7 linked regions of the Homo sapiens genome follow. The protein of the gene in region 4 purifies or fractionates together with the protein of the main gene of each other region. This does not show direct contact. Each region holds a gene or a part of one and is shown on either strand. Other genes may lie near its edges. The genes, in order: AGPAT2, TMEM131L, ADGRG1, PCDHB7, CLCN3, CLSTN3 and PTPRU.

Evidence for each region.
Region 1: the proteins of PCDHB7 (region 4) and AGPAT2 purify together in Homo sapiens (affinity purification with mass spectrometry; one large-scale study listed by BioGRID and IntAct). This does not show direct contact.
Region 2: the proteins of PCDHB7 (region 4) and TMEM131L purify together in Homo sapiens (affinity purification with mass spectrometry; one large-scale study listed by BioGRID and IntAct). This does not show direct contact.
Region 3: the proteins of PCDHB7 (region 4) and ADGRG1 purify together in Homo sapiens (affinity purification with mass spectrometry; one large-scale study listed by BioGRID and IntAct). This does not show direct contact.
Region 5: the proteins of PCDHB7 (region 4) and CLCN3 purify together in Homo sapiens (affinity purification with mass spectrometry; one large-scale study listed by BioGRID and IntAct). This does not show direct contact.
Region 6: the proteins of PCDHB7 (region 4) and CLSTN3 purify together in Homo sapiens (affinity purification with mass spectrometry; one large-scale study listed by BioGRID and IntAct). This does not show direct contact.
Region 7: the proteins of PCDHB7 (region 4) and PTPRU purify together in Homo sapiens (affinity purification with mass spectrometry; one large-scale study listed by BioGRID and IntAct). This does not show direct contact.

What each region holds. Positions count from the first base shown.
Region 1 is NC_000009.12:136,677,422-136,681,957, forward strand, and holds part of AGPAT2 (1-acyl-sn-glycerol-3-phosphate acyltransferase beta), read right to left. Parts: intron 136-4,536; coding exon 2-135; intron 1-1. UniProt on the Homo sapiens protein: Converts 1-acyl-sn-glycerol-3-phosphate (lysophosphatidic acid or LPA) into 1,2-diacyl-sn-glycerol-3-phosphate (phosphatidic acid or PA) by incorporating an acyl moiety at the sn-2 position of the glycerol backbone.
Region 2 is NC_000004.12:153,633,024-153,637,485, forward strand, and holds the end of TMEM131L (transmembrane protein 131-like isoform 1 precursor), read left to right. Parts: intron 1-1,168; coding exon 1,169-1,257; intron 1,258-2,408; coding exon 2,409-2,548; intron 2,549-3,277; coding exon 3,278-3,553; 3' UTR 3,554-3,688; downstream 3,689-4,462.
Region 3 is NC_000016.10:57,659,615-57,663,869, forward strand, and holds part of ADGRG1 (adhesion G-protein coupled receptor G1 isoform b precursor), read left to right. Parts: coding exon 1-67; intron 68-1,153; coding exon 1,154-1,262; intron 1,263-2,082; coding exon 2,083-2,351; intron 2,352-3,837; coding exon 3,838-3,968; 3' UTR 3,969-4,255. UniProt on the Homo sapiens protein: Adhesion G-protein coupled receptor (aGPCR) for steroid hormone 17alpha-hydroxypregnenolone (17-OH), which is involved in cell adhesion and cell-cell interactions.
Region 4 is NC_000005.10:141,170,962-141,176,034, forward strand, and holds the start of PCDHB7 (protocadherin beta-7 precursor), read left to right. Parts: upstream 1-1,682; 5' UTR 1,683-1,874; coding exon 1,875-4,256; 3' UTR 4,257-5,073. UniProt on the Homo sapiens protein: Potential calcium-dependent cell-adhesion protein. May be involved in the establishment and maintenance of specific neuronal connections in the brain.
Region 5 is NC_000004.12:169,689,594-169,694,129, forward strand, and holds part of CLCN3 (H(+)/Cl(-) exchange transporter 3), read left to right. Parts: intron 1-936; coding exon 937-1,059; intron 1,060-2,520; coding exon 2,521-2,727; intron 2,728-4,536.
Region 6 is NC_000012.12:7,153,806-7,157,378, forward strand, and holds part of CLSTN3 (calsyntenin-3 precursor), read left to right. Parts: intron 1-3,573. UniProt on the Homo sapiens protein: Postsynaptic adhesion molecule that binds to presynaptic neurexins to mediate both excitatory and inhibitory synapse formation.
Region 7 is NC_000001.11:29,242,477-29,247,012, forward strand, and holds part of PTPRU (receptor-type tyrosine-protein phosphatase U isoform 1 precursor), read left to right. Parts: intron 1-4,536.

The sequences.
Region 1 (4,536 bases), on a different chromosome or scaffold from region 4:
CCCATCATGTCCAGGATGCTCTGGTGGTTGGAGACGATGACACAGGGACGGGCCTCCTGCAGCCTGCGCGGGTCCCGCACCTCGAAGCGGAGCCCGTAAAAGTACTTGAAGCTTCGCACGAACCAGCCGATGATGCTGCAGGGGAGGCCACCATGAACACGGGTCCCACAGATCCCGCAGCCGAGGCTGGGGCGCGAAGGCCTGGGGGTGGGGTGTGGAGGAGGCTGGGGAGGGGCCCTCCTGGCACGGGGCAGGAGACCGGGAGACACAGGGGAGGGAGCCCCTGAAGCGGACAGAGTCCCGGGCCCGGCTCACCCACCTGGACGGCTGCCCTGCCTCCGTCTCCCCAGCAACAGAGGAAAACCCAGAGCCTCTGGAACTCGGATGCTAGGAGCATGGGAAGGCGCCCACTTCCAAATCCACATCCAGGGCCCACCCAGCCCTCATCCACCCCACAGGGGACCCAGCCGGAAAGGAACTGGCACTGGCTCTCACGTCCGCTATGAAGGACCCACGTCGGGGAGAGCAGCCTCTGCACCCCAGCAGAGGAAATGGGGCCCCACACACCCTGGGGAAGGTCACTGGCCCCTCAAGGCAGGGCCACATCAGGAAGAAAGTGTCGGCGCCAGTGGAGACCTCTGAAACGACCTCCGAAAGGTTCTTCCAGAAAAGAGCCGAGACCGAGACCCTCTCTCACCCCTACCCTACAGAATCAGGCCGGTTCCCTTTCCCCGTGAAGAGGCGGCGAGGGGCTCGGGGCTTGTCTGAGGTCACACCAGGAGCAGCAGCAGAGCCAGGGTCTGGGCCACCTGAGCCCTGGCCACAGCAGCCCCCACTCTGGCAGGGGCCCAGCCCACTGGGGGCTGCCCTTGGAGCACCTGCAAATGTGAGGTGGCCTTGTCCAAGCAGCCCGTCATGGTTGGGACCAGGGATGTCCAAGGGGTACCCGAAGACTCTGACCAGCTCCGAGCGTCCCAACCTCTGCCCTGCTGTGCTGCCAGGAAGCTCTGGGCACACCCCAGATAGGGCACCCCATCACAGGGCAGCCGGCGGGGATGGAGCCAGGAGGACGGAGCTCCACTCCGAAGCTCCAGCAGGGGTGGATGGCCGGGGCAAGGCTGTGCCAGCGCTGACTGGGGGGCTGCCAGTGCTGCTCCCCTCTCCATGCAGACTAGTGCCCCCCACCATTTGATCCCCCAGCAGTCCTAAGGGCCCCACACTTTCTACAGATGAGTCTGAGTAACTGCCCCAGGCCACAGAGCAGAGATTCAAAGCCGGGGCCTTCTCTCAAAGCCATACTGGTGGGGATTTTTGTTGTTTTAACAGGGTCTTGCTCTGTCACCCAGGCTCCCCTTGCTCTGTCTTGCTCTGTGACACAATGTGTCACATTGTGCAGTGTCACAATCTGGGCTCACTCCAGCCTCCACCTCCTGGGCTCCTCCCACCTCAGGCTCCTGACTAGCTGGGACCACAGACGTGAGCCACCACACCTCGCTAGTTTTTGTATTTTTGGTACAGATGGGCTTTCACCATCTCTGGCCAGGCTGGTCTCGAACTCCTAGGCTCAAACAACCTGCCGACCTCGGCCTCCCAAAGTGCTGGGCTTACAGGCCTGAGCCAACTCGCCCGGCCTTTAAAAAAAAATTGTGGTAAAATACACGTAACATAAAATGTATCTCCTTGGCCTTTTCCGGGTGCACAGTTCATGGGCGCTGGGCACATTCGGTGTCTAGCAGCCATCTCCTCCCTCTATCTCCAGAACTCTCCACCTTCTCTGGCTGACGTCTGTTCCCATGCGACACAAACCCCTGTCCCCTCCCCAGCCCTGGCACTCTGCCCTTCCATGTGTGAGCCCAGGCCTGCGGCAGCACCACCTCAGGCTGATGGGGCAATGCTCATGACCCCCTGTTGCAGATGGGGAAACTGAGTCAAGGGGGGCCTAATGGTTAATTCTGGTGATGAGTCCAGCCGTCCGTCCCTGGACTTGGAAGCCTGGGGCCTCCTCAGATCTGCCTTCCTCAGCCAACTCTAGATATCTCCTCTCCAGGCCGCGCCGGCCACCGTCCCCTCCCACCCAGAAGGCACACCCGGGCTGGTAGCACCCGCACACTCAGGGGAACTGCAGGGCTGTTTTGCCTCCACACTCATTTGCGCAATCCAGCTTCCCGGACCCCTGTGACGCTCCAAGAAGACGAGGAGGCAAAAGCCGGCAGTTCACCAACAGGAAACACAGAACTGTCTGGTGCTAGCAAGACGGCCGTGTCGCCAATCAAAGAAGCGCAAATGGAAACAAGAGACTGTCCTCATCCTTCCCCCTGGCACAGATTAAAACGCCTGATAACAGGAGGTGCCAGCCAGGGTGTTGGGAACAGGCCCAGCGGCTGGCAGGAGTGAGGAGTCGCACAGACAAGATACTTCTGTGGAGGGCAGGTTGGCAGGCCCGGCCAGAGCCCTGAGGAAACCTGGCCCCTCCCCTCTCAGAATCTTCCAGGAATTCGCCCGACGGCTGGAGTGAGAAGCCTGTGGTGCTGAAGTGTGCAGTGAATTAGGAAAACCTGAAAATGCTTAAATAGCCACCAGTAGAAAGAGGGAAAGTAAATTAGGGTCCATTTCACAGACAGCTGGGGCGCGGGGAAAGAACAGGACAGGTCCACACTCATCTCCTGTGAAGGACATGTGTATGATTTCTAGCAGCAGCCAAGACACACCTGCAATTCCAAAGCTAGCTGCCTGCAGGAGGCTCGGGCCACATCTGAAAGGGACATTGGTTCCCTCTGGTAGTGACATTGGCCAGTTCCATCTTTTATTTACTTTTTTATTTTTGAGACAGGGTCTCACTCTGTCACCCAGACTGGAGTGCAGTGGTGTGATCTCAGCTCACTGCAACCTCTGCCTCCCGGGTTCAAGCAATTCTCCTGCCTCAGCCTCCTGAGTAGCTGGGATTACAGGTGCCTGCCACCAGGCCTGGCTAGTTTTTGTATTTTTAGTAGAGACGGGGTTTCACCATGTTGGCCAGGCTGGTCTCGAACTCCTGACCTCAGGTGATCCTCCCACCTCGGCCTCCCAAAGTGCTGGGATTACAGGTGTGAGCCACCGCGCCCGGCCAGCTAGTTTCTTAGTGTTAACAACTGCATCTTGGTGATGTAAGATGTTAACAAGGGAGGAAACTGGTGAGGGCCACATGGGGTCCCCCGTAATATCTTTGCAACTTCTCTGTAAATCTGAAATTATTAAAAAATAAGATCTTCATTTATTTTTTATTTTTTTTGAGACGGAGTCTTGCTGTCACCTAGGCTGGAGTGCAGTGGCGAGATCTCAGCTCACTGCCATTTCCACCTCCCGGCAAGCGATTCTCCTGCCTCAGCCTAGCAAGTAGTTGGGACTACTGGTGTGCGCCACCACACCCGGCTAATTTTTGTATTTTTAGTAGAGACGGGGTTTCACCATGTCGGCCAGGCTGGTCTCAAACTCCTGACCTCATGATCCGCCCGCCTCGGCCTCCCAAAGTGCTGGGATGACAGGAAGGAGCCAGCGCGCCGAGCCCTCCTCTGTTTTGATTGTGGTATAACACGCACCACCTAAACAATATAATTGTACCCATTTCTCAGCACACGGTTCCGTGGCACTCGGCGCATTCACTGCCGTGTGGCCAGCACCACCCTCTAGCTCCAAAACTTTTCCTTTTTTTTTTTTTTTTAATCTAAGCTGCTTAGGGGTTGGATCGTGCACTGATACTTCTCTCAGCTGTGAAAGACACGGGGTACAAACCCCCGCCCAGCAGGCGGTGCTGAGCAGGCGCTGTGTCCCGCCGCCCACCACCGGCCCCTGGTCCTCAGGCCAGACAGATGGACGGACGGAGGCTGCCCCAGGCCAGCGGGAGGCTGTGGCTCTCTAGAACTCTGCAGCCCACAGTGTGGCTGGGGGAGAAAGGTATACCCTGGGGGTGGAAGAAAGTTGAAGTTGATGTCCTCAAGGGGACAAAGGGCCATCTGCACCAGCCACGTGAGGCCACCGCACTTCCCCCGCGGTGTCCCGTACATAGTTCAGAGCTTTCTGAAAGCTGGTGGGAAAGTCTAGACTCACTTTACAAGCGGTTCCTGGATGGGCGGGTGGCTCACGCCTGTAATCCCAGGACTTTGGGAGGCCAAGGCGGGCAGATCACCTGAGGTCAGGAGTTCAAGACCAGCCTGGCCACCATGGTGAAATCCCGTCTCTATTAACAATACAAAAATCAGCCAGACGTGGTGGCAGCTGCCTGTAATCCCAGCTACTCGGGAGGCTGAGGCGGGAGAATCACCCGAACCAGGGAGGAGGAGGTTGCGTTGAGCCGAGATGGTGCCATTGTACTCCAGCCTGGGTGACAGAGCAAGACTTCATCTCACACACACAAAAAAAGTGTTTCCTCAGAGAGGAAGGGACTGAACTAAGCCCTGCAGAGGCTCCTGCGGCCGAGGACACCCCCGGGAACCCAAGCAGAGAAAAATCGCCTTCTAAGCACAGAGGCCCCCTGCACCTCCTGTGTGCAAAGCCTCGAGA
Region 2 (4,462 bases), on a different chromosome or scaffold from region 4:
CATGAAATAAAAGAAAGAAAGCTGGTGACAGTGTCGTTATTTTTTAAAAACGTCTTTAAAAAAGACGATTTTTTCATATATTAGAGGCAGATTTGAAAAAAAAACACTCATAATTCCTAACTGCTAGCAGAGCAAAGCTGTTCATTTTTCTGTGGCATTATTCTTGAACACGTTTAACGTTGTATTTATTCGTTTGTTTATTTATTTTTTAGAGACAGAGTCTTGCTCTGTCGCCCAGGCTGGAGCGCAGTGGTGCAATTATAGCTCACTGCAGCCTTGAACTCCTGGGTTCAAGCGGTTCTCCTGCCTCAGCCTCTCAAGTAACTGGGACTACAGGTGTGTGCCACCATGCTGGTCTAATTTTTAATTTTTTTTTTTTTTTTTTTGTAGAGACAGGATCTTGCTTTGTTGCCTAGGCTGCTCTTGAACTCTTGGTCTCAAGCTATCCTCCTGCCTTGACCTCCCGAAGTGTTGGTATTATAGGCATGAGCCAATACACCTGGCCCAAATTTAAAGTTTTAAAAGATCAAATAATTTGAATATTGAAAAATAGTTACACAATGGCAGTTTCTCAAATTTGCTATTTGACATTAATATGTCATTCTATTAGGGAGTCTTAAGAAAATGTTAGATATTTAATCACAGAATCCATTTGATGGTTTTCTTGGTTCAGCTTATTACAACAGTATTTCCTATCTCATTTCTATAATAAGAATCTAGGTTGCAATAGGGATCAAAGTATAATGAAGTATAGTCTTTATAGTTATGCTTGTCTAAGATGAATGCTGGTCTTGCTCTGAGTGGACGTTTTTAATGGAACATGTTTAAGTCCTTCAGATGTGCACAAAGACACTTAAAGGTATTCCAGCTGTTCTTTCACAGTGCTGATAAAGCCACGGCTCTCTATTCTGTCTCTAGTTAGACTTAACAAGCATAGTTAAAAACAAGTGTGCTCCTAGTCCAGCCGTCCATCCTGCAGATGGCATGTCACTAGTGATCAGCATTTAGTAAGCCTTTGATTCTGTGACTTGAGAAAGTACATCTTTTATTTTCCAAAATTGGGGAATTCACAGTGATTAGGATGCTAGGCAGTAAAATCATTTTCCATTTTCTTTACTTGATGTCTTGACATCCTGTTTCTGATTAGACCACTTGTTTTTTGTGGCAGTTTCATTGATTGGAGTGCAACATGCGAAGGCCAGTTTTCCAGCGCATACTGTCCATTGGAATTGAACGATTACAATGCCTTTCCAGAAGGTAAGGGCTCTTCAGACAATCCCAACGCCATTATTTTATTCTTAGAAGGTCAAAGCAGGAAGTGTGTGGACTAAGAAGAATCCTTTTAACAGCGAGCAGACTTTGAGAATGAGCTTGCAGTAGACTGCCGAATGGCTTCATGTGGATCCAGTTGTGCACTGATGCCATATATAATTTTATATGACCCTCAAAAAGCCCTCAATTTTGGGTGTCTGGGGGCTTCAAAAATAACCCTAATCCATTTAGTCCTTCCAGTTAGGTAGAACTAGGTCATTTGGATCCATGTAGATGTAACATTGTTGGGTATCCATTGGGAAGCCGGGGCTTTAGCTGCTCGCTCTTCTTTTTAGGCAGTCAAGTCCCATGTGAAATAGAAACATTGGCCTGCTTCCTATTATGTCCTTAACTTCTCTGCCCTTGGGTGGTGCTGCAGAAGGAAGGAAAGAAGCTTGGAGGGGAAATTGTGGAAAATTGCAGATGCTTGGGCTCAAGCATCTGTAATAATAAAAAAATGAGAGCTATGGGATATCCCTGGTCAACTGGAAAATGCTCTATTGTGCACTACTGTTGGATCATGGTTTCTTATACTAGAGCTGCCCTTTCAGGGAAGGGATGTATCATTCTTATCTAGATTTTGATACATGCATTGCTCCATGCTAACCACAAGGGGGTGCTTTGGGAATGTTATGATTGTGAGGGTCTGTGTTCATTATGTTCTTAATGGTATCTAAGGAGTCCTTGGTTTTGGATTGCTGTATCAGCCCAGATGATATATGTGTAGGTCGCTGAGGTTGGCATGACAGGTAATAAAAACATTTTAAAGACTGGCAAGAACCTTGACACTATTTAGATATCTAGTAGTATTTTAATGTATTTTGTGTAATAGAAAGATTCCCATCAAGTGATCAAATAGAGAAAAACAAGCCAGGAGGAAGACCTTCCACATTGAGGGCTTCCCAGGTTGTGTGTCTGATAAAAAGTTTTAATCTTGAGAATGATGTTGCAACGACTCTCCTGGTCCACACGGACCAAGTATTTATGTCTGTAACTTGTCAGTATAGTGAGACCTTGAAAGCTTTTTTGCCTGAGAGTGAGAATTCAGTTCTCAATGAAAATGTTTACCTATGATGATATTCTCCCATTCTTTGTAGAAAACATGAACTATGCCAATGGCTTCCCCTGTCCTGCAGATGTTCAGACAGACTTTATTGATCACAACTCTCAGTCTACCTGGAACACCCCACCCAACATGCCTGCTGCCTGGGGACATGCCAGTTTCATCAGCTCTCCGGTCAGTGTTGCCCATCCTGTGCCGTGAACCCCTGGGCAGCTCTGAATTGTTTCCACTGCTTCCTTAATCCTGGTCTCAGCTAGCTTTAGCGTTGGGTTTGGACCAGCCAAAGCCTGGCTTGCTTCTTTTAGATCACAGAAGCCAGGGCTGGCCACCCTCTGAAGGAAACTGACATGTAATAATTAGATGGGTGGGGTCTTGCAGACATTGACATTCTGGCCACCCCAAATGAAAAACATCCCCAAACACACCAAGCAATGGTCCTTTGTAGATAAAATTGAACATGGGCCAGCCCTCTGTGTGACACAGCTGTCTTTATGTGGACTCACTGATCTTTACTTCACCGATACGAGATGAAAGTCCCAGGAAGGTCAGTGGGTGGTCAGGGTCCCAGAGCTCCCTGCCTGTGAGCACACCCTCCCTGCTCAGAAGCCCGATGGCTTCTCCTTTCACATCCGCTTGACACTTGTTTTTGTTTTTTTCCAGATAAAGGGTATTTGGCCTGTGGGTTCTTCCCCGGGTTGCAAATAAGTTCATCCCATTAGATGAGGATTTCACAATCCTCCCTTTGAGAAAAAATGGAGTTAAAGCAACCCAGATTTAAATTGAGAGTAGTCTAATAACTTCCAAGTAACTTGATAGCATTGTAGTATTCGCTGATGTGTATTCACCTTTCTAAGGCTTTTTTTTTTCTTTTAACTTATTTTTCCTTCCTCATTTATACTTCAGCCCTACCTCACAAGCACCCGAAGCTTGTCTCCAATGTCTGGACTTTTTGGTTCCATCTGGGCCCCGCAAAGCGATGTGTATGAAAATTGCTGCCCCATCAACCCCACCACGGAACATTCGACCCACATGGAAAACCAAGCGGTCGTGTGCAAGGAATACTACCCGGGGTTCAACCCGTTTCGCGCCTATATGAACCTGGACATATGGACTACCACAGCGAATAGGAATGCAAATTTCCCACTGTCTAGAGACTCGAGTTACTGTGGGAATGTGTGAAAATAATTGGATTTTTAAACAATGTGAATAAAGAGGCTTGTGTTTTGATTACTAGTGTAAACTGGTTATTGAGATAGATTATGACATTGGTGGATATTTTGGCACTTTTATATGAAAATAAATTTTTTAATGAAATCTGGGTGCTCTGTTTTTTTTAACTCTTCATAAATCAGTGGTAAAAACAAAGCATCCATATGTCAGAACTTTCAAAAGTCAAGAAGTGTGTCAGGCATGCCGAATGTTTTAAATCTGAACACGGGAGACGTCTTTTTTTTTTTTTTTTTTTTTTTTTTGAGACAGAGTCTCGCTCTGTCGCCCAGGCTAGAGTGCAGTGGTGCGATCTTGGCTCACTGCAACCTCTGCCTCCTGGGTTCAAGCAATTCTCCTGCCTCAGCCTCCTGAGTAGCTGGGATTACAGGCGCACGTGTGCCACCACGTCCAGTTAATAGAGATTTTCAGTAGAGACGAGGTTTCACCCTGTTGGTCAGGCTGGTCTCGAACTCCTGAACAAGGGAGACTTCTAAGAAGGTAGGAGTTGAGCAAGAAATGGCTGCTATGGTTTTCCTCCTCCTGAGCATCACAACCATCTGGGGAGCTTTCAAAAAATGAAGTTGCTCAGCCGTTGAGAACTGCTGGAAAGCCCAGCTTAACAAGTTGTTTGCTTGGGTGGACTCTGCTTGGGGGTGCAGCGGGGGGTTCTTTCCAGTCCTGGTGTGTTGCTGGGATGAAGCAGAGAGCCCTAGAACTGTTCTCTCCATCCCACTTACGGCAAGGGCTGTTCCTCTGTCAGGCCAGTCCTTGGGGGCAATGACAGCAGCAGGAACATTCTGGTAAGTGTGTGGTTTCCCTCCCAGTGAGCAGGCTAACCCTGAGTATAGGAACTTAGGGGAGGTTAGGTGGCTGATGCAT
Region 3 (4,255 bases), on a different chromosome or scaffold from region 4:
CTCGTGGTGGAGGTCTTTGGCACCTATGTCCCTGGCTACCTACTCAAGCTGAGCGCCATGGGCTGGGGTAAGTGGTTGGGCGGGGGGTGCCTCAGACCTGCCTCTCCCACTTGGCTCTGGCAAAACCCAGGCACCTGGTTCTGCCTCTCCACCTATCTCTCTGACTTCCCTCCTGGCCTCCTTCACTCATCCTCAGGTGTCCTTCACCTTGGCTGAATCAAGGTCCCCTTTAGGAAGAAGCAGTGAGCCCTGTCCCCAAGAAACACTTCCAAATTCTCCACATCACTCACTCCATTGCAAAGGGGATTTACGAGCAGGGCCACCGTGTGTGAATGTGCAGGTTGTGCACTGCTCAAAGGCACCCAGTTCAGAGATCAGAGGGGCTGAAATCCAGTCCCGCTCCAGTCATTTAATTCACTCGGGCTGGCAGTGGCCCTGCCTCAGGATCCCCCTGGACCTTGGGTAACAGATTCCCTGTGGCTTGGCATTTTGTTCTTGGCCAATGACTGTTCAATTCACCTGTGGCCAGCCCTCTTATGTCAGACCTACAGCCCAGGGGCTCATGATGCCACAAGTCTGTTTGGACATTGCACAGACCCCTCAACCTCCGCATGCCCCTGACTCCAGCTTGCTGCTCTTCGCGGGTTTGTCATTGGGCCCCTTCTTTGTCCATTCCCCCATTTGCATGAAATTCCTTTGGAGGTGTCTCTGTGTCAGGACTTTGTGTTTGGAGGTGGGCAGCCCCCTCTAGGGAGCTTCTAATCTCCACCGAACGGGCGAGGTCAAGGCCCAGTGCAGACGTCCCCTGATGGCAGAACTCTTGCCGTCCCTCCTAAACTGTCTGCCCCTCCCATCTCCCCTGTGACATCCAGCCCTGCAGCAGAGACCCACAGGCCTTTCTCCCAGGGGCCCCCAGGGTGACGAAGGGCAGGGCTAAGGTTGGAGGAGATGGCATCCCCTTATAGGAAACCCATACTGGAATGGGGAGGGGGAGGGTCCAAACTTGGGGGAACTTCCCCACCAGATGGGGCTGGGTGGGCTTCAGGAGCCCAAACTTCAGAGGGGCCCTTGCCCTCCAGACTCCCTGAGGCCAGCAGGGAATGGGCAGGCCTCAGAGAGCGGGAAGTAGAGCAACATGCATTGCCACCCTCAGGCTTCCCCATCTTTCTGGTGACGCTGGTGGCCCTGGTGGATGTGGACAACTATGGCCCCATCATCTTGGCTGTGCATAGGACTCCAGAGGGCGTCATCTACCCTTCCATGTGAGTGGCTGTGTGCAATGGGGGCAAGAAGGTGGGTCTCTGGGCACAGAGGCCAGAGTGCAGCCCGGGCCCAGGTCATGCTGGCCAGGGGACACCTGGGTTCCAGTCTCCTCGAGGAATTGGCCTGGCAGTGGCTGAAGCACTGGTCTAAGAGTCATGGAGGGTGAGAAAAGGCCTGGATCTACCACTCACTCACCAGGTGACCTTGCACAGGCCCCGGCCCTTCTCTGAGCCTCGGTTTCCTCATGCATGAATGGGGGTATGGGTTGGAGCAGATGAGCCTCACCACATTCCTCAGCAGCACCTCTCTGTCTCCCCATGCAGATGGGAAGACAGAGGCTCAGGGAGGGAAGAGATCCGCTCTTGGCCACACTGAGGGCTGGTGTGCTGTTCGGAGGCAGAGGATGAGTGGGGTTGAAGTCCAGTCCTTCTCCACTCACCTGATTCACCCAGGCTGGCAGCGGCCCTGCCTGTGGATCCCCTGAACCCAAACCGGAAGCCAGGGTTCCTGAGCTCCAGCCTGGGAAGGAATCCTTCCCATTGGCTCAGTGGTTTTGAAATTTTCAGCTCTTTATGTTGTGACCCAGTGATTTCTGCCTCACTTTTGTACTATCTATATTATTACTTACTTAACATTTTCCTTTAAACAATCTGACTTGTTAACTCAAATGTATTTTTAAAATTACATCAACACTGTAAATAGAAAACAAGCGCACTTGCTGTAAACAGTGGATAATCCTGAAAACAAACATGACAACCACAGCCCAGGAAATGCTGCCCGTGCTGGCCACACGCTGAGCCCTCCTGCCTTTGCCCGCAGGTGCTGGATCCGGGACTCCCTGGTCAGCTACATCACCAACCTGGGCCTCTTCAGCCTGGTGTTTCTGTTCAACATGGCCATGCTAGCCACCATGGTGGTGCAGATCCTGCGGCTGCGCCCCCACACCCAAAAGTGGTCACATGTGCTGACACTGCTGGGCCTCAGCCTGGTCCTTGGCCTGCCCTGGGCCTTGATCTTCTTCTCCTTTGCTTCTGGCACCTTCCAGCTTGTCGTCCTCTACCTTTTCAGCATCATCACCTCCTTCCAAGGTAAGGAGAAGACCCGTCCCTTGGCCCAGGCAGGGTGTCTACACATGGAGCAAGGGCAGGGAAGAGATCACCCAGGGAACCTGAAGACTTCCCTTCTCTGGGCCTCAGTCATCCCATTCATAAAATGGGGACATCCAGGCCACAGTCAACAAGTCTTGATTGAGCACCTACTATGTGCAGGCCCTGTGTTAAGCCACAGGGCTTATGGCTGAGCTGGTTGGGTGTGGGCCTTGTTCTTTTGGAACTCAGCTCTACTGGGGAAGACTGCGCATGAGCAGGCAAGCATATAGCCATCAAAGGTGGTCCCAGATAGTAGGGACATCGTCGTGAGCACGTGCTGCACAGGGCCTCGGCTGGGGTGGGGGACACCCTAAGAAGGGTGGCCAGGGAGGCCTCTCTGGATATGAGACGTGTGAAGACAAGAGAAGGATCCCCCCATGGAGAGATGGGGGGGCCTCCCTACTCCAGGCGCGGTCCACAGACCAGCAGCAGCAGCGTTGTTAGGAGCTTTTTGGAAACGCAGCCTCTGGGCCACCCGGGCCCTGCCACATCAGAATCTGCATTTTCACAAATGCCCAAGGGGTCACGTGCACATGATAGGATCAGGAGCCCTGGTCTAGGGGAAGGAAGCTCCAGGCAGAGGGAGAGGCAAGAACAAAGATCCTGAGGTTGGAACCGGTTGTGTGTAGGAAGGACAGTGAGGGAGAGCGTGGCCAGATGGCGGCGGGTCGGGGCGGAGAGGTGGGATCCCAGGGCAGGGTCATGATGGCTCTGGCTTGATGCCAACAGGGTCCCTTTCTGTGCATGTACCTGTGTGTGTACATTGAGGTGCACACACAGGCATGCACACCCCTCTGTTCCTGGCCGTGCAGAATGGAAGGGGGTTGTATGGCCAGGCCCAGGGGCTCTCATGGGGTTCAAGGCCAGCCTCCCATACAGGGTCACCCTAGAATGGGAGCTGGGAGTTGGTGGTGGGGAGATGTTACCACATTTCGGTTATTTAACATTCAAGCCTTCATTCCTGCCTGTGAGATGAGGGGACTCAGGATTGTAAGTGAGGCCCATACATTCACACAGACATTTACTAAGCTGTGGATACATCATAGTGCTATTAATTTGAGGGGTGCAAAATCTCACAGTGCTTAAGTGGGTGGACTTCAGAGCCTGTTCACCACAGTTTGAGCCCTGGCTCAGCCACGTCCCTTTACCTGAGCCTCCTGGGCCTCAGTTTCCTTGTTTACAAAAGAGAATAGTAATGAATAGGATGGGCCTAGGAAGTTTGTGACAGTGAGAGGCCACACGGGGACGCAGCACAGTGCCCGGCTCATAGGAGGTGCTCGCTGGGTCTCATGGGTGCCCGACAGCACGTGCTTGGCAAACACTATGGAGAGGTGGGGCAGACCCGAGTCACAATGGCTGGGGAGGGAGGAGGAGGGATGGGGTGGGGCTCCCCCACCTGCTGACCCCGTGCCCTCACTGCCCGCAGGCTTCCTCATCTTCATCTGGTACTGGTCCATGCGGCTGCAGGCCCGGGGTGGCCCCTCCCCTCTGAAGAGCAACTCAGACAGCGCCAGGCTCCCCATCAGCTCGGGCAGCACCTCGTCCAGCCGCATCTAGGCCTCCAGCCCACCTGCCCATGTGATGAAGCAGAGATTCGGCCTCGTCGCACACTGCCTGTGGCCCCCGAGCCCGGCCCAGCCCCAGGCCAGTCAGCCGCAGACTTTGGAAAGCCCAACGACCATGGAGAGATGGGCCGTTGCCATGGTGGACGGACTCCCGGGCTGGGCTTTTGAATTGGCCTTGGGGACTACTCGGCTCTCACTCAGCTCCCACGGGACTCAGAAGTGCGCCGCCATGCTGCCTAGGGTACTGTCCCCACATCTGTCCCAACCCAGCTGGAGGCC
Region 4 (5,073 bases):
GTTCCCAATATATGGTAAGTAAAAGAAAATCTAAAATACCTAAAATGTAATCTAACATAATAAACAGTCAATTGATAATTTCTAAAATTAATTAATCAAAATATATCAGAAAACAGATTAGTGACTGAAGAGATAACTAAAAGAGTTTTAAAATGGCTACCTCTTAGAAGGGGAACTAAGAAAAGTGAGGAGGAAAAGGGCAGAACAAGCCTCTTAGTGCTATTTAATTTTGGACCAAGGTCATATATTATTTTGAAAAAAATGCATTTCAAAATATCAGTAAAGTAGAGCTCTTGCAAGTCTCACCAAGAATAAAAAGGAGTTAAAATGCTAAACATCACTAATAAAAATAGGGATACAATTAAAGGTAAATAACGCAATGAAAACAATTCCAAGAAATTTGCAAACTAGATAAAATGATTTTCAAAATAAAATGCAAGTTACTTAAAAATACAAAACCTGAACAGATTAATAACCAAAGGTAAAATGTAAATGGTAGTCACTGATCTACTGCAAGTGAAGTCACCAAACCCAACCAGTTTAAAAGACAAGCTGGAATTAAGCATGTAGAAACATATAATAATATAATTATTAAAACTATTGTATAAAATAGATAAAAAGCTCCCTAACACATTCTATGATGCCAGTATAATAGTTTAATACCAAGGCCATAAAAGGCAAACACGCACTAGGTAAACAACATTAACTAGAAAAATCCTAAAACCATGTTGACACATCATATCTATCTGTGCACTAAAACAATAATACATTATGGTTAAATGTCATTTATATCAATAACTCAGTAATTTAGAAACTAAAGAATAAATGTATTATTTCAACAGCTATCAAAAATCACTTCAAAATATGAAAGAATAAAAAGAAAACTTTATTGATTCAAAAAAGGAATATTTACCCCAAATTGAGATCAACCATCATAGTTGAAGATGAAATGCTAGAAGCACTTCCACAAATGCAAGATTGACCAACTTGCTACTACTAATTTTAAGAGTATTCATTGGACATTGGAGATTCTAGTCACTGAAATTATAGAGGAACAATAATTTCTTATGTAATACTTAAATCAGGTGAAGGATGAAGGTTGGGTTTGGGGGAGGCATAAAGTGTTCCAAGAAATATCACAGGTAAAGAGTTAAGACCTGGAAAGTGGAATAATTGTTTAATTCACAAGAAATTGGGAAAAGGGTCAATTATTCTGCCATATTCACATTATTATTGTTAAATACTTTACAAATAAATAAAATGTCCCCAACCAATATTTGTTGACTTCAAGGAGGAGGTTTCATTTTCTCATATATATTTTTACTATCCATTTTTAAAATAGGAGATTTTCTTAGGATTTCGGTGGGGAGTCAGAGTTTAGTTTCATGCTCCTAGATTTAAGAAGACTATAAATTAATTCTTCTACGAATCCAGATTATCACAGGGGAAAACGACATCAGCTATTACTTACTAGCATTACTGTGACCATTTGAGGATAAAGATGGAATGAAACAGCAAAGATACCGGGGACAAATCATTCTTGTTGCAGAATTCCTTCAATCCGCCATCTTTTTGTTCTAGTCTTGATAACGGGAATAACATCCACAAAACGCAAGGTGGCGCTGCTGGCTAAAAAGAGAGAGAGAAAAATAATTTCACAAAGAAAGGATGTTACAGATTCCAGAGCAAAGAGGCAATCTGAAGAGAAAAGCATAGGAAAGGAAACAGTGGTAATAGGAATTGGGGTAAAATGAGGATCCTTCCCCACAAACATTGCTATTATTCAGCTCATTTCAAAGGATTCCGCTGCTGCCATTTGTGAGAGCCGCTGGAGGCTGAGTGAAAGTCATTTTGAAAGACTGATCCAAAGAAGAATGGAGGCCAGAGTGGAGCGTGCTGTGCAGAAAAGGCAAGTCTTATTTCTTTGTGTATTTCTGGGAATGTCTTGGGCTGGCGCCGAACCGCTTCGGTATTTTGTGGCGGAGGAAACCGAGAGAGGCACCTTTCTTACCAACTTGGCAAAAGACCTAGGGTTAGGGGTAGGGGAACTGAGAGCCCGGGGAACTAGAATTGTTTCAGACCAGAACATGCAAATTTTACTGCTCAGTTCGCTTACTGGTGATCTACTTCTAAATGAGAAATTGGACCGAGAGGAACTGTGTGGCCCCAGAGAGCCCTGTGTGCTGCCTTTCCAGTTGTTATTGGAAAAACCTTTTCAGATTTTCCGTGCTGAACTATGGGTCAGAGACATCAATGATCACGCTCCAGTATTTCTAGACAGAGAGATTTCCTTGAAAATATTAGAAAGTACCACTCCAGGGGCGGCATTTCTCCTAGAGAGTGCACAGGATTCAGATGTTGGAACCAACAGCCTGAGTAACTACACCATCAGCCCCAATGCCTATTTCCATATTAATGTCCATGATAGCGGGGAGGGGAATATCTATCCCGAATTGGTGCTGAATCAAGTGCTGGATCGGGAAGAGATACCAGAGTTCAGTTTAACCCTCACCGCTTTAGACGGCGGCTCTCCTCCAAGATCAGGGACCGCCCTCGTGCGCATTCTGGTTCTAGACGTAAATGACAACGCCCCTGATTTTGTGCGGTCGCTCTACAAGGTGCAGGTGCCCGAAAATAGCCCCGTTGGTTCCATGGTTGTCTCCGTGTCAGCCAGAGATTTAGATACCGGAAGTAATGGGGAAATAGCCTATGCATTTTCTTACGCCACTGAAAGAATTCTCAAAACGTTTCAAATCAATCCAACATCTGGCAGTCTTCATCTTAAAGCGCAATTGGACTATGAGGCAATTCAAACTTACACATTAACTATTCAGGCCAAAGACGGCGGCGGGCTTTCTGGAAAATGCACTGTAGTGGTTGATGTAACAGATATAAACGATAATCGACCCGAGCTGCTCCTGTCTTCACTTACTAGCCCAATTGCAGAAAACTCACCCGAGACAGTCGTGGCTGTTTTTAGGATTAGAGACAGAGATTCCGGGAACAATGGAAAGACAGTGTGCTCCATCCAGGACGATGTCCCCTTCATCCTGAAGCCATCTGTCGAAAACTTCTATACTCTGGTAACAGAGAAACCTTTGGATCGAGAGAGGAACACTGAGTACAACATCACCATCACCGTCACCGACTTGGGGACACCCAGGCTGAAAACCGAGCACAACATAACCGTGCTGGTCTCCGACGTCAATGACAACGCTCCCGCCTTCACCCAAACCTCCTACACCCTGTTTGTCCGTGAGAACAACAGCCCCGCCCTGCCCATCGGCAGTGTCAGCGCCACAGACAGAGACTCGGGCACCAACGCCCAGGTCATCTACTCCCTGCTGCCGTCCCAGGACCCGCACCTGCCCCTCGCCTCCCTGGTCTCCATCAACGCGGACAACGGCCACCTGTTTGCCCTCAGGTCCCTGGACTACGAGGCCCTGCAGGCGTTCGAGTTCCGCGTGGGCGCCACAGACCGCGGCTCCCCCGCGCTGAGCAGCGAGGCGCTGGTGCGCGTGCTGGTGCTGGACGCCAACGACAACTCGCCCTTCGTGCTGTACCCGCTGCAGAACAGCTCCGCGCCCTGCACCGAGCCGTTGCCCCGGGCGGCCGAGCCGGGCTACCTGGTGACCAAGGTGGTGGCGGTGGACGGCGACTCGGGCCAGAACGCCTGGCTGTCGTACCAGCTGCTCAAGGCCACGGAGCCCGGGCTATTCGGCGTGTGGGCGCACAATGGCGAGGTGCGTACCGCCAGGCTGCTGAGCGAGCGCGACGCAGCCAAGCAGAGGCTGGTGGTGCTGGTCAAGGACAATGGCGAGCCTCCGCGCTCGGCCACCGCCACGCTGCACGTGCTCCTGGTGGACGGCTTCTCCCAGCCCTACCTGCGGCTCCCGGAGGCGGCCCCGGACCAGGCCAACTCGCTCACCGTCTACCTGGTGGTGGCGTTGGCCTCGGTGTCTTCGCTCTTCCTCCTCTCGGTGCTCCTGTTCGTGGCGGTGCGGCTGTGCAGGAGGAGCAGGGCGGCCCCGGTGGGTCGCTGCTCGGTGCCTGAGGGCCCCTTTCCACGACATCTGGTGGACTTGAGCGGCACCGGGACCCTATCCCAGAGCTACCAGTATGAGGTGTGCCTGACTGGAGGCTCCGGGACAAATGAGTTCAAGTTTCTGAAACCAATTATCCCCAACCTGCTACCCCAGAGCACAGGCAGGGAAGTGGAAGAAAATCGCCCATTTCAGAATAATTTGGGTTTCTGATAAAGAATGTAAACTAAATCCGCGTCTGTGAATACGTTTCTGATTAGGAACTTATTGCGAGGTTCCCTTAAGGGAGTGTCTTTACATCATTTCAAATATGTACTCTTGAAGTCAAGCAATAAATTTCTATACATAAAATAGGATCCTGATTTAGTATCAAGAACCCTTCACAAAGCATGAAATGTATATGTGTAATGTTTTATGTCAAACAATTATGCTTAATATACAGTCTATTAAATGTAAGTCTTGTTTGAGATATTTTAAATTGCTTTCCATTGTTTTCAATCTCTACTGAGACTTCCTGAGTTGATTAGAAAGCTGTATGAGTGTACCTACCCTAGTCTCAGAAGCATAGACTGTAGAGTATCTTTTTAAGCATTTTTAAAAAATGCTTTTAATGCATCATACACTATTTTAACACTTTTAATCTGAGAAGAAGCATATGAGGCATGGTATTTTAGGAATGAACAAATAGATGGTCTTAGAGATTCAGTAAGTTCACTAAGTTCCACTAACTAATAAGTGACAAAACTGAGCATCCATCCCAGATCTGTCTGACTCTGGGTCAGTGACCCTGCTCCGATTCCATACTGTTTTCTGTCATTAGATATCACCTGGCAAGTTTCTGCCTAATTAAGGAGAAGTCTTTTATCATATTTATACTGCTGTCCAATCTTTTCTATATTTAGAAATAATAATGTACATATTTATCTATGGTTTTATTTTCTTATACACCAAAAGTCCTGCTTTTCTGGGTCAATTTTCAACTATTATTACTAATGCTCTGATCTGTCCAAACTCAAGCGGAAAACAAAAT
Region 5 (4,536 bases), on a different chromosome or scaffold from region 4:
TTAGTAAAATCAACCTACGTAGAGATACATTGAAGATAATCAGACATTTTTATTTGTGGCATTACGGCATTTAAATGATTGATTTACTATGATCTACAAAGAACATTTTAGAACTTAGGATGTTACATGTATATTTTTTACATGATGACATGGATATATTTTTTAAATTTTGTTTTAGCTGAACTTTAGAGCTAAAAGGTATACATTTGCGGTAAGATGAGTAGTATGCTGTTTCTCACCTGGCTTAATTGAATTGAGTTTAATGATCTGGAAAGTTGCAGCAGAATGAAATCTGAGTGGTGATGCAATTTGTTTCCACTGTTTCCAAAAAGTGGTTTGTAGGCAGAGATTGAAGTATAGCTGAGATGTGTTGGTAACAAGACTTTAGGGATTAGGAAAAAGATTAAATGTGCTCAGGGTTCCTTGGTATATGTAGGCATTAATTTTTGGACTCTACTTAAATATTTTGTTCATATAAAGTTTTTATTATTGTGGAAATAAACCAGGAGACTTTTACACATTTTACTGAAGTTTCTTTTCTTTCTTTTTTTTTTTTTTTTTTTGGCCGGTGGGATGGAGTCTCACTCTGTTGCCCAGGCTGGAGCGCAGTGGCACGATCTCGGCTCCCTGCAACCTCCGCTTCTGGGGTTTAAGCGATTCTTCTACCTCAGCCTCCCGAGTAGCTGGTATTACAGGCGTGCGCCACCATGCCCAGCTAATTTTTGTATTTTTAATAGCAACGGGGTTTCACCACATTGGCCAAGCTAGTCTCGAACTCCTGACCTCAGGTGATCCACCCGCCTCAACCTCCCCAGTGCTGGGATTACAGGCGTGAGCCACCATGCCTGGCCGTTTACTGAAGTTTCTTATGACAAGCATTTGCATTAGAGGTGCAATGTAAATTAAATTCATACTCTCGAACTATTTTCTTTTTAGGGTCCTGGTTCTTATATCATGAACTACATAATGTACATCTTCTGGGCCTTGAGTTTTGCCTTTCTTGCAGTTTCCCTGGTAAAGGTATTTGCTCCATATGCCTGTGGCTCTGGAATTCCAGAGGTAAGCCAAGTAATATTTAGTGTCATTAAACATTATTATGATGCTTATCTTTTTGACCTTAGTGATAATAAAAGTTGGCTTTTCTGGAGGGAGGGGATAGTTTGTTCATAATATGAAAAAAAAATTTTTTTAAGTATAAGCTGATGGTAGACATCATTGAAAAATATTGTTCCCCATAGTCATTTGGTCATTTACTGTGAAGGCTGATTTTTTTTTTCTCTCACCACTAATTTAACACATGACTAGGCAAATTTTCAGACTATTTAGTTAAACATCAAGAGCCTGGAAGAAGTATCTTGTGACCTAATGTTCTTTGACGGGTTAGTTGTTACTTTGCTGTTATGACCCTGAATTTTTTTTTTTTGAGACTGAGTCTTGTGCTGTCGCCCAGACTGGAGTGCAGTGGCGCAATCTCAGCTCACTGCAACCTCTGCGTCCCAGGCTCAAGCAATTCTTGTGTCTCAGCCTCCTGAGGAGTTGCGATTGCAGGCACCTGTCACCATGCCCTGCTAATTTTTGCATTTTTTTGTTTGTTTTTTTTTTTTAGTAGAGATGGGGTTTCACCATGTTGGCCAGGCTGGTCTCAAACTCCTAACCTCAAGTGATCACCCGCCTCAGCCTCCCAAAGTGCTGGGATTACAGGTGTGAGCCACCACACGTGGCTATGACCCTGATTTTGATTCATTCACTTTTTATAATTACCTTTTGATTAGATAAGTTAATTATTCTTGAATTTGGCCATTTTATGCTTTGAGAAAGTAGTTAATCACAGTGGGTCAACAGTACAAACTTTTGGGTTTTATTTTTCATCACAATAAAGTAGAGTTATACATAGGATTGATTGAACTTGATTTGAACTTATCTCTTCTCTTTTATTTTTCTGTAGTTAAATAAGTTACCAACTTTTTCCTAATACATTTCTTTTTAAAATGGAATTGTATTGATCTTTAAGTTTGTATTAAGAATATCTTTCATAAAAAGCAATATCATGCAGTATATAACAGTTGTTACTCATTCTTGATACATAAAAAACTATTGCACATAATTACAGTACTCAGAGAAAACATAATATTCTTATTTCTAACATAATGTCCAAAATATATTTAAAATATTATGCTTATTTTTACAACAGAAATATTCAAATTTGCCCTTTTTTTGGTTATGTAATTATAATCCTTATAATTAAGGTCTGTATTCATTTTAACATGGCCTGATATTTTGATTTTGTTCCTGAGATAGTGTTGCCCTCTCTCCTTTCTTGGGTAGAGAATTAGATTATAATATCAATTTATTATATGTAGCATAATAGGCAAAGTTTTCGAAAAATTAACTGTAAATTTTTCTGTAGACTGCTAAAATTTGCAAGGTTGTTTTTGTGCATAAAACAAGAAAATAACTTGGATTCGTTACATTCTCATGTTTCTTAAAGGACATTAAGCTGCCTTAATCTTTGCCTTGTAGATTAAAACTATTTTAAGTGGATTCATCATCAGAGGTTACTTGGGAAAATGGACTTTAATGATTAAAACCATCACATTAGTCCTGGCTGTGGCATCAGGTTTGAGTTTAGGAAAAGAAGGTCCCCTGGTACATGTTGCCTGTTGCTGCGGAAATATCTTTTCCTACCTCTTTCCAAAGTATAGCACAAACGAAGCTAAAAAAAGGGAGGTAAGTGTCTTTTGTAGTTAATTTGACTGAAAAATATATATTATATAGTATTTATTTAAGTAAAGAATTTCTTAGTGTAAAAATAATAAATTCTGTATTCAGATAAAAAATTTTGAGATTTGTGCTTCTGTTTTTCCTGAATAATCTATAACATCTTTCTAGAATCCATTCCCAGTGCTGCTCAGTTCGTCTTACATTTTAGAGAAGCTTTAGATAGACAGCTGGTGTCCATTGGGTTTCAGCTGCATTTCACGAAGATCTTCCTGTTATCACTTTACCTTACATCTTTCCTCTTCTGAAGTGTTTTCTAAGCTTAGCTTTGTTTTTCACTCTTACTTTCAACATTAAGAGGTTGGGAAATCTTAATAGCTATGTTTTCCTCCTGGAGGCAGTGTCTGGTGCCAGTGTAAGTGGTGTGTGATATGAAAAATGCTATCCAGTGCTATGGGGAAGTTCTGAGGGCCTTTAGAAGCTCTTGAAGTTTAAATCAGAAATTCACATTAAAGAGATTACAGGAAATCCTTTTCATTTGATTGTTTAAGGCAATTTCCTTTACCATTTCTTTAGGCCAGCCTGAGATCTTCTACAAGACCTTGAAACCTTATATATATTATGGATTTCCTCTGATGTTTCCATATTGCTCTGGGCATTTTCCTGAATCCTTTATATTAGCTCTAGACTTTGGGAGCCCAGTCCCTTCCTATTTTCCAAATCTAAATCTACAGCCCTAGATGGTACAGAGATCTTTGAGTTTTTAAGATATGATTTTTTGAAAAACATCTCATTAAATACTGGCAGAACCTTTTCATCTTGTTGAGTTTTTTAATGTACTGTAACCAAAAAAGTAGAATATTTTATCAAACTGTTTAATCTTCAATTGAAATAATTCTAGTACATTTTAATGTTCGCATTAAAATATTGTCCTTGCATTGGACGTAGATATCCCAAAAGTGGAATACTTCAGATTGTCGTAGTTTCATCTCTGAATAATTGTGATTCCAGTACTTTATAACAAAAATAGCTAGCATTATTGATTACTTTCTGTGTATCTGGTACTGTGGCAGATACTTTACTTGGATTTTAATACTTAATTTCACAGTAATTTAGTAATATGGCCCTGTTATCCTCATTTAGTGATTAGTAAACTAGGGCTGAAAACAGCTAACTAACTTGCCCGAGACTACATACCTAGTAAGTGGTGGAACGTAGGTTAAAATTCATTTTTCTTTGACTTCAAAGTCTGTGGTCTTACCTACTTACATTACTGCCCTTACGACTATGTGGGTATATATTTGTGTGTGTTCAAAACAAACTCAAAACCATCCTGTAGCGTAGCAAGTTAGTGGCTAAGATGAAGCTAGAGCATTTGCCTCCTCAATTCAATTCCATTACTTTCTGTTGTACCTTTATATTTTTTGGTAAGACTTTTACTTATTCTAAGTTCAAAAAATGTAATTTATTAGATGTTTGAGAAATTAAGTTTACCTAAATTTTAATGTTCATACTGTAGTGATTAGTTAATGTTTAATACGTTGTTATTCTGTCACCTTAGTGTATATATAAATGGCAAGAATTCACGGTTAGTTGAAAGCATTAAGGTCCCATAGTTTTGTGTAGACAAGAGGGGAGAGCGTTGATATTTTTAAATTAAATGCTTCTTAGATACGTATGAAATGGATTAAAACATGTATATGAGTTATAGATACCTAGGTGTTAGTTTGGTTGTAAATTCAGGATCAGGACATTCAAATAAATATGTTTGCTTTCCTCTTAGTGGAGGAAAAAAAAAAGAAGCTAAATTTGCTCCCT
Region 6 (3,573 bases), on a different chromosome or scaffold from region 4:
AAGGCCCCAGGTGAGAGACTTCTTGTTCTAGGAGCCCAGCACCTTCTCCCCTGAGTGTCCAGCTGCCCTGCATGGGCTGGTCTGGCGGGCAGCGTTTCTCACCCCTCAGCCCCTGGAGGAGTGTCTGTTCACGGCACCCTTTCACCTCCCCTCGGTGAAGCCCAGTCTCCCCATCCTTTGTTCTGAGCTCATGTCCAGGCTGATCAAGCTTCCCTCAGATTTCAGTTGAGAGCAGCAGTTTTCCTTTGCTTCTTCTCTTATTTTGACCTGAATAGGACACAGAGTTCGTAGCTTCCCTGAGGGCACTGGTGATTGGCATGCCTGAGCTGACAGGCCATTCACGGCATAAAACCCTTTCCATATGCCTTTTCTGACTCCGCAAGGTGCTCCCTCCCTTTCACCTACAAATCTCGAGTGGTGTTGCAGAACTGTGGTTTCACAATATCAAACCATTCTAAACATGCAGAAGCAGTGAGAGGTACGATCTCCTCCAGTGGCACGGAGGCCCATTGCTCTAAATCTCCTAAGTGCACTAGAGAAAGAGAGATGAATGTGAACTGGAACCAGGGTAAACTGGAACAGTCAGGGGAGATTTTGTGGCACATGTAGAGTTTGCATTTGGACCTGAACTGTAAAAGGGATTTTTGGATGGGTGTGAGAGAGAATGGGAATTTGAGAACCGGGGGTAGATAGGTGGTTAAGAGTGTTTATGGTTAGAGAGAATAAGGTTGGTTGAGAAGAGCAAGCCGGATGATGAGGGTATTATGTATCTACTCATATCAAATTTTGATGACTGCCAGAATCACCTGGGGAGCTTTAAAAACTCTCGGCACCTAAATTATACCCTAGAATGTCTAGGGGGTGGGAGCCACGTGTCAGTGGTTTTTAAAAATCCCATGTAATCTTTAAAAGTTTGGGAATAATTTTCCTCTTTTGTTTCCTACAAGTATCTGAAGCTTTGCAGAAAGAGTTACAAAGCAATAGGACAAAAAGAAAATGAATGAGGAAGTAAGGAGGAACAGGTAATGATGAAATAAGGATCCAATGAAGCCAGGGAATAAAGTCAGCTCATAACATGCGTACTATGAGATGCTATGCAGTTGCTACCACGGGCCAGAATTTTGACCCTGAGCTTCTTCAAAGCTAAAGCAAAAGGAAACCTGAGCAGTTCTGAGAGCCGTGATAGGAGCCAAACGCTATTTCATGAAAAGCCCTGGGAGTGCGGGGGGCAGAAAGAAATCTCTCCCAAGGCTCTTTGCAAAGAGAGCACCGTGTGGGGCCATGGACAGGGCTTTCCACTGTCCTCGCAATCCCATGGACCATTTGCTAAGTCACCCCTTAATGTTGGCTCTGGAGGTCATTCAAGGCCAGAATTAACTGCTCAGATCTCATGTAGCAAGAAAAGCTGAACGCACTTCTTAAATTCTTGATTTTTATCTGTAGCTGATTTAAAAATCCTCCCATCTCCCCGGGCTCCTGACTCATCTTAAACTAATTAACCAGACTTGTTTGCTTGTAGATAGAGTGTCTGCATTTTGTCTTTCCTGTGGTCATTTCTTATTGTCCTGGCAATCAACTTGTCATTTCCTTCATTAGGCCAGGAGCTCGGAGGGACACTGCATTGATTAGGGCGCAAACCAGCTTTAGCTCGTCATCGTTGTGTGCTTAGAGGAAGTTCACCTGCTTTGGCCTCCACTCTGAGGGTGGGGTCACCACCCCTTCTGGAGCCTGGGCTTAGCCACTGGGCCCATCTGCCAGTGAAGGCACTGCCCCTGGCTCTGGTCTGTTGACGTGGAGACCTGAGAGACACTATTTCCTGCAGATGGGCAGGAGAGACAGCTCTGTCCCCTCCTCCCTTATCCCCCGTTCCCAGGAAGTTGAGAAATACTGATCCAGCCAGTCCTGTCTTCACCTTGGAACCAGTGTCGAGGGAGTGTGCCCCAGCAGAGTCCGTTCTAATTGGCTGGTGGCCTCAAGTGGGCTGTGGGTCAGGATGGGGACCAACTTGGCAGACAGCCATCAGGGTGGCCTCAGGGAGGTGTGTGGCCTGCCCAGGCAGGGCATTCTCCACACACCTAGTTGGCCCTGGAGTGCGTGGCAGCTGAGTGTGCTGGCTGCTGGGGAGAGGGGCGCTGCAGCAGGGTGTGGGTGTGAGTGTGAGGAGCTCCTGGGCCATGCGCTTCCCTACGCTCTGCTCTGTCTGTTGACACATGAGTCTCAGGCTGTAGGTAATTTGCGGACGGGGCTGGAATGCGATGTGTGTATTTTTCTAGGGGCTTGCTTGTGTGACTGCTGGTCTCTGTGTGTGTTTGGGGCACACATACATGGAATAGTCCCTCAGCAACGGGACCGCCCAGGGAGGAGCTGCTGTGTATGCATGGTGGGCAGGGGTGTGCACCCATGTGGGGAGTAGTGACCCAGCTGCCCGTAAGGGCCCTGGGCCTGGAGGTGCGTGTGTGGGGTCTCTGCCTCCACCTGCTGTCCCTGGGGCTGCGGGCTTTCCTGCTTTTCTTCCTTGTGCTTCTTCGAGAGCTGTGTGTGTGTGTGCAGGAGGCAGGCAGGGCTGTGCTCATGGCGGCTCGCTCTGTGGCCCTCACGGCCCACGTCTGTAGTGTCTATGTCTTCCTTCAGGGGGTTGCCTGGTCTGCCCAGCTGGTGGGGAGCTGGGTGATGCTGCACATATGGCTCTACCGTGCCTTGCTGGAGACCCCCAGACGCGTTCCTTTACTCCCGCAGTGTGAGCAGGCGGCCAGGTGGCTGGTGTGGGCCAGCATGCAGGCTGGCAAAGGCCTGGCTCGGGTGTGGGGCGTGGCAACCTTTGTGCAGCTGTGTGCCCACACGGTCTTCCTGAGCATGTACCTGTGCATGCACATCTGCTTTGCCGCCATCAGCTCTAAGGTCCGTGTGAGAGTGAACGCACCGTTCTGTGTCTCAGTGCCCTTGAAGGTCCATGCCCCTCTGAGCCTGGGCATCAAAGTGGGGCTGCAGGGCCAGAAGCATGGGAGAGCCACGGGGGAGGCAGGTATGCCTCAGGGGGAGATGTTGGGGAAGCAGGAACCCCAGACGTCCCGGAGCCCCAAGCCCACCAGGAGAAGGGAGGTGTCACGGAGTGAGCTCAGTCCAGGTGGGTAAGGGAAGGGGCTGCTCTGTGCCCCTTGGACTTGTCCCCAGCCTCAGGTGCTAGTGCCCTCTTCCTGCAGCCAGCCCAGGCCTGGAGCCTGCATCTCCTCCTGCTCAGCCAAGCCCGTGTGGGGGCCCCTCCTCTCCCTCACTGGGCACTGGCACCTCTTTCCTAGGCTGAGTGGTCTCTGGGGAAGGCACAGGTGGAATGACAGGGGCAGATTCCAGTCCTTGCCCTCTGTCCTCTGCGAATAGGGCTGTTCATGACAGTGTTGGGCAGGGAGTCTTTTTCCTCCTCTGCCCTTGCCTCTCTGTACACCTGCCTCCCTCTGTGTTTGTTCCTTTGCCTTGCAGCAGCTCCCTTCCTCCCCTTTCGTCTCCTGCCCTTCCTGGTGGGCTGTTTCTCTTCTGGCTTCTCCAGGTGTTCCTCTCTTCTCGGCCACCGTGTGTTCT
Region 7 (4,536 bases), on a different chromosome or scaffold from region 4:
CCTCTACCTGCATTCTCCAATACGGTGGCTCCTGAGTCATGTATGGGTATTACATTTAAATTAATTAAAATAAAAATTCAATCCCTCAGTTGCACTAGTCAGATTTCAAGTCCTCAAGAGTCATATGTTGCTAGTGGCTCTCATTGTACTGGTTAATGCAGGCAGAGAACATTTCCATCCTCTCAGAAAGTTCTGCAGACAGCACTGGTCTAGAGGCATGAGGCGGCCTGCAGCACCTTCAGTGAGTCCTGGGCATCTCTGGGAGGGGAATTGGTCTGGATGGACCATGACTCAGTGGCTCTTGACAAAAGGTTTTGTTCAATCCAGGCCCCTTCTCTGCAGCCTTATTAGATCTTGCCTGGACTATTGCAGTAGCCTGGTAGCCTTCTTGGCCTCTACTCTGCCTGCCATCACGCTCTCGGTTTCTTTTTTTTTTTTTGAGATGGAGTCTCACTCTGTCACCCAGGCTGGAGTGCAGGGGCACCATCTTGGCTCACTGCAACCTCTGCCTCCTGGGTTCAAGCAATTCTTCAGCCTCAGCCTCCCAAGTAGCTGGGACTACAGGCGCGTGCCACCACGCTCGGCTAATTTTTTGTATTTTTAATAAAGACGGGGTTTCACTGTGTTAGCCAGGATGGTCTCCATCTCCTGACCTCATGACCTGCCTGACTCGGCCTCCCAAAGTACTGGGATTAGAGGCATGAGCCCCCGGGCCCGGCCCAGGCTTTTGGTTTCTAATGCTTCCACCACCCTGTGGCTGGAATAAGCTTCTAAGGCAGACATAGGATGCTGCCACTCCTTTGTCCCAAGCTGAAGGCTCCCCAGAACTCAGGGGACAAAACCCAAACCCTAGCATAGCACATGAGGCCCTGCATGACCAGCCCTTTCTTTCTGAAGCAGCTTCACATGATGCCTTTCTTCCCTGATCCCACTCCTGCCTATCCGCTGTCTGCTCCAAATCACCAGGCAAATTGCTGATCCAGGAGCCTGCCATGCCAGTTCACACCTCTCTACCTTTGCACACACTGTGCCCCTCCCTACTTCTCACCTCGTGGTGGGGGTGGGGGATCTACCTACTTGTTCAGCCTTCACAGTTCAGCTCCATTGTCACTGATGCAGCGAAGCCTTCCCAGCCCTCTCCCGGTGCAGTTGGTGAAATTTCTCCCATAGTGGACGTCTGACAATGTGCTGCGGTTTTCCATCTCCTTTTTCCACTAGGCTGGGAGCCCCCAGGGGCTGAGCTGTGTCTTTGTCATCTGTGGTCCCCAGGGCCTATACGTGGGAGATGCCCACTAAGTGGCTGCATCTCGATGCCTCTGGGTGCACAGGGAAGGCTTGGAGGGGTGAATGCAGGAGCTGGGGTTCTGCAGCACAGTCATGGGTGGGCTGGCTATGCCTCCTCCTCTGGCTCTGGGTTGGGGGCTGCCATTTCCTGCAGAATGACTGTGGGAGGACCCCTGAGGGGGACAGCTCAGAAGATGCTGCTTCCAGATGACGCAGGAGGTCTTGGGCAGATTCCCAAGATGCAAACCACAAGACCTTGTGATGACTCAGAAGGGACAAGGAGAAAGGGGGCTTGGAGGGCCGCTGAGGCTTGGGAGTTTGAGGGCAGAAGCTGGGGAGAAAGATTGAGATGGGGCTGTTAGGAAGGGGAGATGCTGAGGATATTTGACAGGGCAAGATTAAAGCTAGGGGTGGGGTGACAGCTCAGCCCCCGGGGGCTCCCAGACTAGTGGAAAAAGGAGACGGAAAACCGCAGCACACTGTCAGATGTCCACTGTGGTGGGTGACAGCTGAGGCCTGGGGGACCACTGGCGGATAGAAGATAGCTGGTGGGAAAGATATACCTGGGGGATGGGACAGCTGACAGTGAAGGGACAGGCGGTATTGGGGGAACAACTGAGGGTTGGGGGACAGGTGGATGATAGAACAAGGAGATGTGGGTGATAAGATAAGAGGTGGAGATAAGAGGTGACAACTGGGAGCTATCAGAAACCTAGTGGATAGGACAGGTGAGTCTCAGCTGAGAGTGGGAAATACATTGCTTAGAATGTGTATGTATGTGTGTTTACAGGAGCGTGCATGTGGACTTGTGGCTGGGCATGCCTGTCAATATGTGTTTGTCTAGCGTGTGGTGGTTAAGAGCATGGGTTCAGGGCCCAGACCATCTGGGTTCTAATCCTAAGCCCACCACTTCTAGCTGTGTGATACTTTGGTAAGTTACTGACCTCTCTGGGCCCTTAGAGTTCTCATTTGTGGAATGGGGATAATAATAGGACACACTGCATGCGTTTGTCATGAGGATATGTTTTATGGTTATGATTATGTAGGTTAGAACAGGTCCTGCACATAGTAAGCACTGTGTAAGTGATCACTGTTATGATGTGTGTATTTGCATGCGTGCGGTCATCCTGTGTGCCCAGAAAAGTTTGTTCTTGGTTTCTGATGAAGTCCAGGCCTGGGAGGGAGTAATAGTGGTGGGGACGGGGGTGGTGGTTGGGGAGTGCCTAGCCAGGTTGATTGAGTCTGGCTCTTCTCTGACATCCTAACCTCTTGTTCATCCTACTTCCTGCTCACCCTGTCCCAGGGCCTTATCCAATAATAGGTCTTTCTCTCTATCTCTCCTCTGTCCTGCCCTGGGCTGGGGGCCAGGGGCTGTACTTTAATTGTCTGAGAGCTTTACCAGCAGAATTTGAATTCATTGTTTTCCTGCCAGCATGCTGGGATTCTGCTCAGTTATAATACCTGGACAATGTGCTCGATTCTAGATGGCCTATCCTGTGGGTGGCAGTGGCTTCAGCCTTTGCCCTTGGAGAGTCACTGGGGTGGAAGATGTTGGAGGGAGGGAGACAAGCCAGATGAGATTTCGGCCCCCAACTTGTGGGGTGAGCCAGCGTGGCCGGGCAGAGCTGTAGGTAGAGAGTTTTCCAGGGATCTGAGCTCCCCTCTCCTCCAGTGCATCACAGGGAGGCATCATGACCCTCCCAGCAACACTGTTGCAGCGTGCCAGGCTCTGGACTGCTCTGGATGTGCACTGTCTGGGATTCCTGGGTCCAGCCTCCTTGCACAGCCCTGTGTCTCAGCCCTCTACTTCACTGGGATTGCTGCATTGCATTGAGGGTGTGCGTTCTCCTGAGTTTCTGCATGCTCTGCCTCTGCATTGTCCCATTGGACCGTGCCTCCATCCTGCCATGATCCTGCCATGGTCCTGCCATGTGTGTGTCTTTGCTGCTCTCTTGTATACTGTGTCACTCTGCTGGATGTCAGTGTTGCATTGGGAAGGTGAATTCTCCTGGGTTTCTGGGCGGAGCTGCTCACACTGCACCACTGTCTGAGATCAACACATGGTTTTCTGTGGCCACATTGCATGTTTGTGTCATAGAGCATTTATATTCTGCACCCCATTGCCTCACCAGGCAGTCTACATTGCATTGGGCACATGGACTCTTTTGGGGTTTGGGCATAGCTCCTCGCATTGCAGCACTGCACCGTGCCAACAGATGGCATGCTACCACAACATTGCATCTTGGCATCACACAGCATCTCTGTACTGCACTGCACTATTGCATGGACGTCAGTATTGCATCAGGACTGTGAACTTTTCCTGAGTTTCTGGGCATGGCCCCTCTGCATTCCACAGTTGCATTGTACCAACAGTGCACTTTGCCCCATATAGCACTTCTGTGCATGTGCACTGCTTTGCTGCACTGGATATGTGCCTCATGGCCCAGCCCTTGCACTGCACCACTGCTGCTGAAACGCTGCCCCTATGGTGTCCTGGCCTTTCACGCTCCTACCACCATGGTATCTGTAGGCTGGCGTCCTTTTCCAGGTTTTTGTTGTCAGCCCTACGTGAACAACATCTTTGCATTGAGTGTCCTCACTGCCCCACGTTGCACATGACTCAGGGAGTCTATATCTATAGTACAGCTTGGGACCACTTTCTTGGGCTTCAGGACTGGCTTAGGTTTGCAAAGGCAGCACCACTGCACAGTATCTGACATTGCATTCGTGCACTGCACAGGATTACTGCCCAGGGCCTCTACCCTGCAACGAACCTGTTCACTGTTGGGTTGTGTGCACTCTACCGGATTGCGGGACCCAGAGCCCTTGCGTTGAATCCACTGGTTCCACACAGCATCTATTTTTTTTTTTTTAAGATGGAATCTCACTCTGTTGGCCAGGCTGGAGTGCAATGGAGCGGTCTGGGCTCACTGCCACCTCCGCCCCCTGGGTTCAAGTGATTCTCCTGCCTCCGCCTCCTGAGTAGCTGGGATTACAGGCATGTGCCACCAAACCCAGCTAATTTTTGTATTTTTACTGGAGACGAGGTTTCACCATGTTGGCCAGGCTGGTCTCAAACCTCTGACCTCAAATGATCCACCTGCCTCGGCCTCTCAAAGTGCTGGGATTACGGGCATGAGCTACTGCGCCCAGCTCCACACAGCATCTTAATTGTACTCCATTTTGTGCCACTTCCTACCCATGCCTCGAGTCTGCACATACTCTGTTCCTCAGGACTGTATTTATTGGGCT